Homo sapiens: one gene and its partner. Changing the gene in region 1 together with any one later gene gives a genetic interaction. Each region holds a gene or a part of one and is shown on either strand. Other genes may lie near its edges. The genes, in order: CMAS and PPP2R2A.

The links.
Region 2: changes in CMAS (region 1) and PPP2R2A together harm fitness less than expected from each alone (positive genetic interaction), as found in Homo sapiens cells (one large-scale study listed by BioGRID).

The regions. Positions count from the first base shown.
Region 1 is NC_000012.12:22,052,547-22,056,377, reverse strand, and holds part of CMAS (N-acylneuraminate cytidylyltransferase), read right to left. Parts: intron 1,230-3,831; coding exon 1,087-1,229; intron 924-1,086; coding exon 768-923; intron 1-767. UniProt on the Homo sapiens protein: Catalyzes the activation of N-acetylneuraminic acid (NeuNAc) to cytidine 5'-monophosphate N-acetylneuraminic acid (CMP-NeuNAc), a substrate required for the addition of sialic acid.
Region 2 is NC_000008.11:26,364,447-26,368,277, forward strand, and holds part of PPP2R2A (serine/threonine-protein phosphatase 2A 55 kDa regulatory subunit B alpha isoform), read left to right. Parts: intron 1-1,868; coding exon 1,869-1,960; intron 1,961-3,831. UniProt on the Homo sapiens protein: Substrate-recognition subunit of protein phosphatase 2A (PP2A) that plays a key role in cell cycle by controlling mitosis entry and exit. Involved in chromosome clustering during late mitosis by mediating dephosphorylation of MKI67.

The DNA of each region.
Region 1 (3,831 bases):
TATGCCAGATATACAATTAAACATGAGCCAAATGAAGAGGCAGAAATAGGTGACTCACAATCAAGAAAGAAGCAGATTACAGAACTGTAAGTGACTAGATGTTGAAATTTGCAATCAAGGACTTTCAAATAGCTATCAAAAATATGTTAAATTAGAGGAAATGACCTTTTTTTAAAATGGATAAAAAAATGGAAAATTTCAACAGAAAATGGAATCCCTACGAAACAACTAAAATGTACATTACTGAATGGAAAAACACAGTGTTTATAATAATTCTCTGGATAAGATTTATAGCACACTGGACATGGCAGGCAAAATGCCTAGTAAACCCTAGGGAACCCTTCTTATATATGGAGTTAGGAATTTGGGGAAGAACTTCAAAATGTCATTCTTGAAATCCTTCAGAACACTTTGGTGGATGCTTTCTATCTCTATATGACTTGTATGGAGTTCATCAAACATGTCTAGAACAAACATAAAAGTATTTGATCTAGAAAAACAGCATATCTGCCTCAAAAGGCAAACAGAAATAAGAGGATTAGAATGTCCCTTTGTAAAGAGTAAAGCAAAGAATTAATTTGGTCTAGCTGTGTTGGCTCGATAACAGATTTACAGCTGATTGTAAATGTCATTACCTACTAAAGTAATGAGTCAAATACTCTCTTTTACAGCTCCCCTTTTACTCTCCTCATGCCTAAAGGATATTTATATACAAAAAAATTGATTCTCAATAAAATCAGCTAAAATAAAGACTGAAAAGAGATTACCTCCTTTCTGAATTTCACTCCATCGAAACTGATGGCGTCTCACAACAGAGAAAACAGAATCATATCCTTCTTCTCGAATCATTTCTGCAACTTTTTGAAGATCAGTAGGATGTAAACATGGAGAAGTAGCTTGAATATTTCCTACAATGTCAACCTCTTAAAAAGACAAGAGAAATGAAAAGGATATTTAAAAAAAAAGTTCCTTGCAAGCAAGTAATATTAAGGTTTGGAATTCAAATGTTAAAACAAGTCTTATAAGATAATAAAGGAAGTAGAAAAGTACATAAAGGTTTGAATAAACTATTAATCAAATTCATACCATTATGATAATTAAGAAATTCTATGATGGCATCTAGTGAGGTAGAGCTGTCTTTTGAAACTTCAGAACTTCTTCGATGAACTTGTGCACCAAATTGTTTGGCCACATTCTCAATTTCATCATGGTCTGTCGAAACCCATACACTGTTCAGATATCAAAAGAAATTAACAGCCAAATCAAAAGAAATCATTAACAATAAAATGGAGCTCTGTAACCATAAAATACAGCTTATATAATGTGAGAATATTTTTTGCACAATGATAATAATGTTACAGATCCAAAGGAGTATAAAATGTAAGAAATTATAAAGTATTTTGTATATAAATATATTAATGAATAAAAATGCAGTCCTAGATATGCTTTATATAAAGAAAGGAACAACAGACACTGGGGCCTACTTGAGGGTAGAGGGTGGGAGGAGGGTGAGGATCAAAAAACTACCTATCAGGTACTATGCTTACTACCTGAATGACGAAATAATCTGTACACCGAACCCCTGCAACATGCAACTTACCTCTGTAACAAGCCTGATGTACCCCTGAACCTAAAATAAACGTTTTTAAAAAGGCACTAGAAGTCAAATCTAAAGAAAATTAAAGATCTTGCTTATTCTCCATCCAAATCCAAAATATTGTATAAAATATTTTAATATGCTTGCTAAAAAAAAAAAAATGGACTTGGCTTAGCCAAACCCTAAAGGTGAAACAGTTTCAAGCTTAGAAGATAATAAATGCCCAAGTCTGGGCTCAAAAAAAATCAGATGAAACAACTCTTTCTTTTTTAAACAACAAACAATGGGTATATAGATGTAGAATCAGCTGGGTTATAGCCATTGATAACAACAAACATGAAGAACATGACTTCATTAGCTCAAAAGAATTTAACTTAATACTCTATTAACCGCAGGTTACACAGTTGCCTATTTAGCCTTTACAAAATGATGAGTAGGCAAAATGCTGTTTTGGAGAGGGGTACCAGTTTCTATTGAAGTTTTGTTTCCTGGACAGTCACAAATTCCCACTGCTAAATGCAGAAGATGTAAATACTACTCTAGCCACAATGTTTGGTCAGGCCTGGAGTCTCACACCTGTAATCCCAACACTTTGGGAAGCCGAGGCGGGTGGATCACCTGAGGTCACGAGATGGAGACCAGCCTGGCCAACACGGTGAAACCCGGACTCTACTAAACATACAAAAATTAGCTGGGCATGGTGATGCACACCTGTAATCCCAGCTACTAGGGAGGCTGAGACAGGAGGATCGCTTGAACCTGGGAGGCAGAGGTTGCAGTGAGCCGAGATCGCGCCACTGCACTCCAGCCTGAGAGACACAGCGAGACCCTGTCTCAAAAAAAAAGACAAAAAACAACAACAAAACCCTGCCATGTTTTTTTGTTTTGTTTTGTTTTGTTTTGAGACGGAGTCTCGCTGTGTCTCCCAGGTTGGAGTGCAGTGGCGCGATCTCGGCTCACTGCAAGCTCCGCCTCCCAGGTTCATGCCATTCTCCTGCCTCAGCCTCCCAAGTAGCTGGGACTACAGGCGCCCGCCAACACGCCCGGCTAATTTTTTGTATTTTTAGTAGAAACGGGGTTTCACCGTGTTAGCCAAGATGGTCTCGATCTCCTGACCTCGTGATCCGCCCGTCTCGGCCTCCCAAAGTGCTAGGATTACAGGCGTGAGCCACCGTGCCCGGCCCCCACCATGTTTTAATAGTGATTTATGCAAAGATATCTTAATGACTTATAGTCTTTGGTGTATGTGTGTGTATATATATATATATATTTGGTGTGTATATATATATATACACACACAAACATATATACACATTATTTTATATACATACAAAATTATATATAACGTGTATATATAATGTGTATATATAATGTGTATATGTGTGTGTGTATATGTATACATATACACACACACATATATATTTTTCCTTTTATCCCACTCTTTCGATATCTACTGAGGGAAAGATGAACTGCATGTTTTGTTTGTTTTTTTGACAGAGTCTTGCTCTGTCACCCAGGCTGGAGTACAGTGGCCCATTATCTGCTCACTGCAACCTCCACCTCCCAGGTTCAAGCGATTCTCATGCCTTAGGCTCCTGAGTAGCTGGGATTAGATTACAGGCATGTGTCACCACGCCCGACCAATTTTTAGTAAAGATGGGGTTTTGCCATGTTGGCCAGGATGGTCTCAAACTCCTGACCTCAAGTGACCCTCCCACCTCAGCCTCCCAAAATGCTAGGATTACAGGTGTAAGCCACCACGCTCGGCTGAACTGCATGTTTGTCTATGCTCAATTATCATGAGTGGAAAGAAAGTGAAAAACTAAAGAAAATCTTCTAACATCCCTGGATTTCATTTATTTATTTCGTTTATTCCCTTTAATATTTATAGAGGGATTTAAATCAAGGGATAAAGTCAGTAAGAAAAAATAATCAAAGAAAGCCTAGCAAACAAGATGAGCCACTGGCTAGGGGTCAAGAATCCCGTGATATCTACTTATGTCACTCTATGCAGGGCGAACGCAGGAGCCCCCATTTTCCTCCATCTTGAAATCTGAAATAGTGGGAAAAAAATGTTCTCTTGGGAAATGTCATAGTCAAAGGTATATAACAAAGTAAAGTAGCAATGAAAACCTAGTGCATTTTTAAAATAGAGATGACGAGAGGATAAGATGAAATTAGAATACAATAAAAAATAAACAGGGAAGGCAAAAGACATGGTAATTTGGCATCTA
Region 2 (3,831 bases), on another chromosome or scaffold:
CTACTGTTTATCCGTGTCCACTACATCAAACAGAAGAGAATGAAGTACACAGCCTGGAACAGGGTGAGGGACAGCACAAACCTGTGCTAGGCCCTAGACTGCAGTGTTGAAATCACTTAACTCTAATTTATACATATACTTTCTTTATGTTATATATTCTCAATAGACTGGGAAGTATGTTTCTCAAACTTTAAATCCTCTGACAAACATAAACGAAGATTGTTTTTGATACGTGAAATTTCAAAATAAATACTGCACTGAAACAAAAGACAAAATACTGCTTTGCTTTTCAAAGTATAGTTCACTATTGAGCAACATGGATTTGAACTGCATGGGTTCACTCATACACAGATTTTTTGTTTTGTTTTGTTCAACCAATGCACATTTGAAAATACAATATTTGAGGGATGCAAACCCCTCAAATATATGGAGGGCCAAAACTTCACGTGTGGGTTCCGCAGGGCTAACTGCAGATTTGGGTATACCTGGGGTTCTTGGAACCCATCCCTCGTGTATACTGAAAAAAGACTTCTATTTGTGTAACTGCCAAGATTGATATATCTCCTAGTTACCCTCACCATCATTTCATTCCCATTGAGAAGAATTGATTTGAAGCTTAGCTTCATACTGATGTATAGTGAGAAACTCTATAATGTGCATTCTAAAATGTTGCTAAATTATGATAATCTACCTAATTTTACCTGATTTGCTACTTTTCTACTTATAAACAGTTGGAGTAGTGATTAAAAGTAGTCACATTATAGGCAAATGTATCATATATAGATAAAACTATTTTTATTGAATTTGTACCAGCATCTTGCCAAGTTTTGTGTGATTGAAGGGTATTTTTTTCTTACTGATTTTTTTGTGTTACATGCTCACTTTTGATCCTAACCCCACATGAGTTGCTATTCCTCTGTATTACAGATTTTCACTTAATGTCACAGAGACATGGCCTGAATCATTCCACTATATTTAAAGTTAAAATAGACACTGAAAATAAGTTTAGATTGTTTCATATAGAATAGAGAATTCTAAGCATTTAGAAGGTACCTTCTCATTTCTGTCATTTCTCCTTAAGTAGCTCCTTAAAAAGAGATGGTGAAATATAGACACTTCCTTTTTTCCTTTGAGTTACAACAAATACTTTGGAACTTTTGTTTGTAATTAATATTAATGTTGAAATATGTCATATTTCTCAGACTTTTTAAATATGAGATTTCTAGTTTATCCTTTTTTGACATATTAGTAAATACAGAATTATATAATTCAAAAAACAGGCACAGCTTTGTTAGCTTTTGACATTGTATAATATGATACTATCAAATTTTTAATAATATATGCCCAGAATAACCATATAATTTATCACCAAACCAAGGCATGGTTACGCTATGCATACATGTGCATTTATAATGGAAAATATAGGCTTCAGTTAAATTTATGCCCAGAAAATGGTATTTAAGAAAGAAATAGGCACAGTTTCAGTGTTGTTATCAGTAGTTAATGGACTGAAAGCCAAGAATAGTGATATTCAGATATTGCTATAATGTTCTTTTATTAGTCTCTTAACTGTGCCATTTTCAAGTGTTTTTGGCCTGAATGTTTTATTCAGGCTTATAAAGGCTATGTGTGCCATGCCCAGAATGGAGTTTTCCTTTGTCATACCAGTAGGAAAATGTACCTCCCTGAAGGGCTTGTGTGTTTTGTAAAAGGACAAAATGCCTTTATTGTTACTGAGAAGATTGAGATTAATAGGTTTAAAAGGTGTGTGTATGTGTCTGTATATGCCCTTTTTTTCTTTTTAAAGATATGGACTTGTTAAATCATTTTCCTAATTTCAGTGCAGTATATTTGTATTTTTCCCCCAGGTGCATGAATACCTCAGAAGTAAACTCTGTTCACTGTATGAAAATGACTGCATATTTGACAAATTTGAATGTTGTTGGAATGGATCTGACAGGTAATTAAGTCAAACCTCTCAAATATGAATTTTATTAAAGAAAAGAAACAACTATTTCATTCCAGGTCCTAACTTCGTCTCTAGGGATTCCTTGAAATAAATTTAGTAATTTTAGATATAGCACAGCAGTACTGGTAGATAAAAAATTAAAGCATTGTATTTCACTAGTAAATATAAAAGTACACAAATTCTAGGTAATCTAAATTATTTAAATGTCTAGAATTTTTTTTCTTTTATGAACCAGATCACATTTCTGACATGCTAACCATTAAAACGGTGAAGCTTCAGCTTGGTTGTTATTCTTCCATTAAACTGTTGCAGAAACATTCAGGCGGCAGATAACTCATTTGGATTGTTAGAAACACCAGGTTTTCCAGATGCTACATTAACACCTCATAGAAGTGGTCTTTCATATGTATGTTATGTATGATGTTAACCATAATATATATGGTTAAAATTTTAGTAGTAGTTATCCTTTGCTTTTTATAATTTCCAGTTTTGCCGTAGTGTAATTCCTTTTTCGTATTCATTTTTAGTAAAATGTTACCCATTATTTAAAGATAAAATAAGTCTTACTTTGAGTCTTTTAGTTGTCTATTTGCCACTATGTTCCAGTAGAACAGAAAGTAGTAAAACATAATTTTGGAATTAAACTGACATTTAAAGTAATCAGAGATACTTCAACAACAGTTTTATCACAGAGCTTAATATGATTCCGATTTCATGGTGTTGTGTGTTACAGAGGATAATAGAACTTATAGAATGTTTTCTTTCATCTGGCTTTTAAAATTATCTGATTTTTGACATAAGGACTAGTAAACCTAGAGTTCTGTTAATAGCAAACATTGCCTTTGAGTGCTACTACTAAACCTGAGGCATCAAGAAGAAAGAAGGAAAGGGAAGAAGAAAAAAAAGATTAACAAATTTGAAGAGTAAAGAGATACTGAAATAAGGTGTGGCGCACAGCTACAACCAGTTTTTCATTGTATTTAAGCAGATAATTAGCAGTTTTATGTTCTATTATCAGAAAAAAACGATTTGTTTTCCTTAATATTAAAAATTTTTTTTTAACTATTTCAAACTTAGAGAAAATTTGTTAGAATAACACAAAGAACTCTTGGCTGGCCTTGACCCAGGTTCCCCTGTCGCTGTTTGCTGTATCACGTGTTCTATTCTCTGTTTATTTATAGCTATATTTGTCCACATAGGTACGTGCGCATGTGCTCACATGCAACTTGTGTGCCACATGGGAATTTATTCCATTTACGCCAGATGTGATGCCCATAACCCTAAATTCTTGAATGAGTATTTCCTGACAAAAACACTTTCCAACATAGTGACAGTGCAGCATCCAAAGCAACATTCACAGCGATGCAGTACTGCCATCTAATCCGGAGACCCACTGAAACTGACCAGTTACTGTAACTATGTCCTTTATGGCACAGAACAAAGTCAGTCTGGTTCAGTATCCAGCATTTAGTTGTCATCTCTTGTTAGTCTCCTTTATTCTGAAACAGTTCCTCAGTCTCTCCTTGTCTTTCATGACCTTGGCATTTTGAAGAACACAGGCCAGTTATTTTATAGAATGTTTCCTCATGATTAGATTCAGGCTATACATTTTTGGCAGGAATACCACAGAAATGCTGGCCTAATGATACCTTTTTAAAGTTTCAAGTAGCCACAGCCTAGGTGTCCTAATACATTAAAACCACGCAAACTCAGATGATATGGGGATGTCAATCTAAATTACACAAGCCATTTTTAAAGAAATACAGTTTTGTCATCTTCAGGGGCACGCATTACCTTGAGTTTGATTAAAGTTGTTGCCAAGTGTCCTTTGGGAATTGACATTACTAAATAGATAATAATTT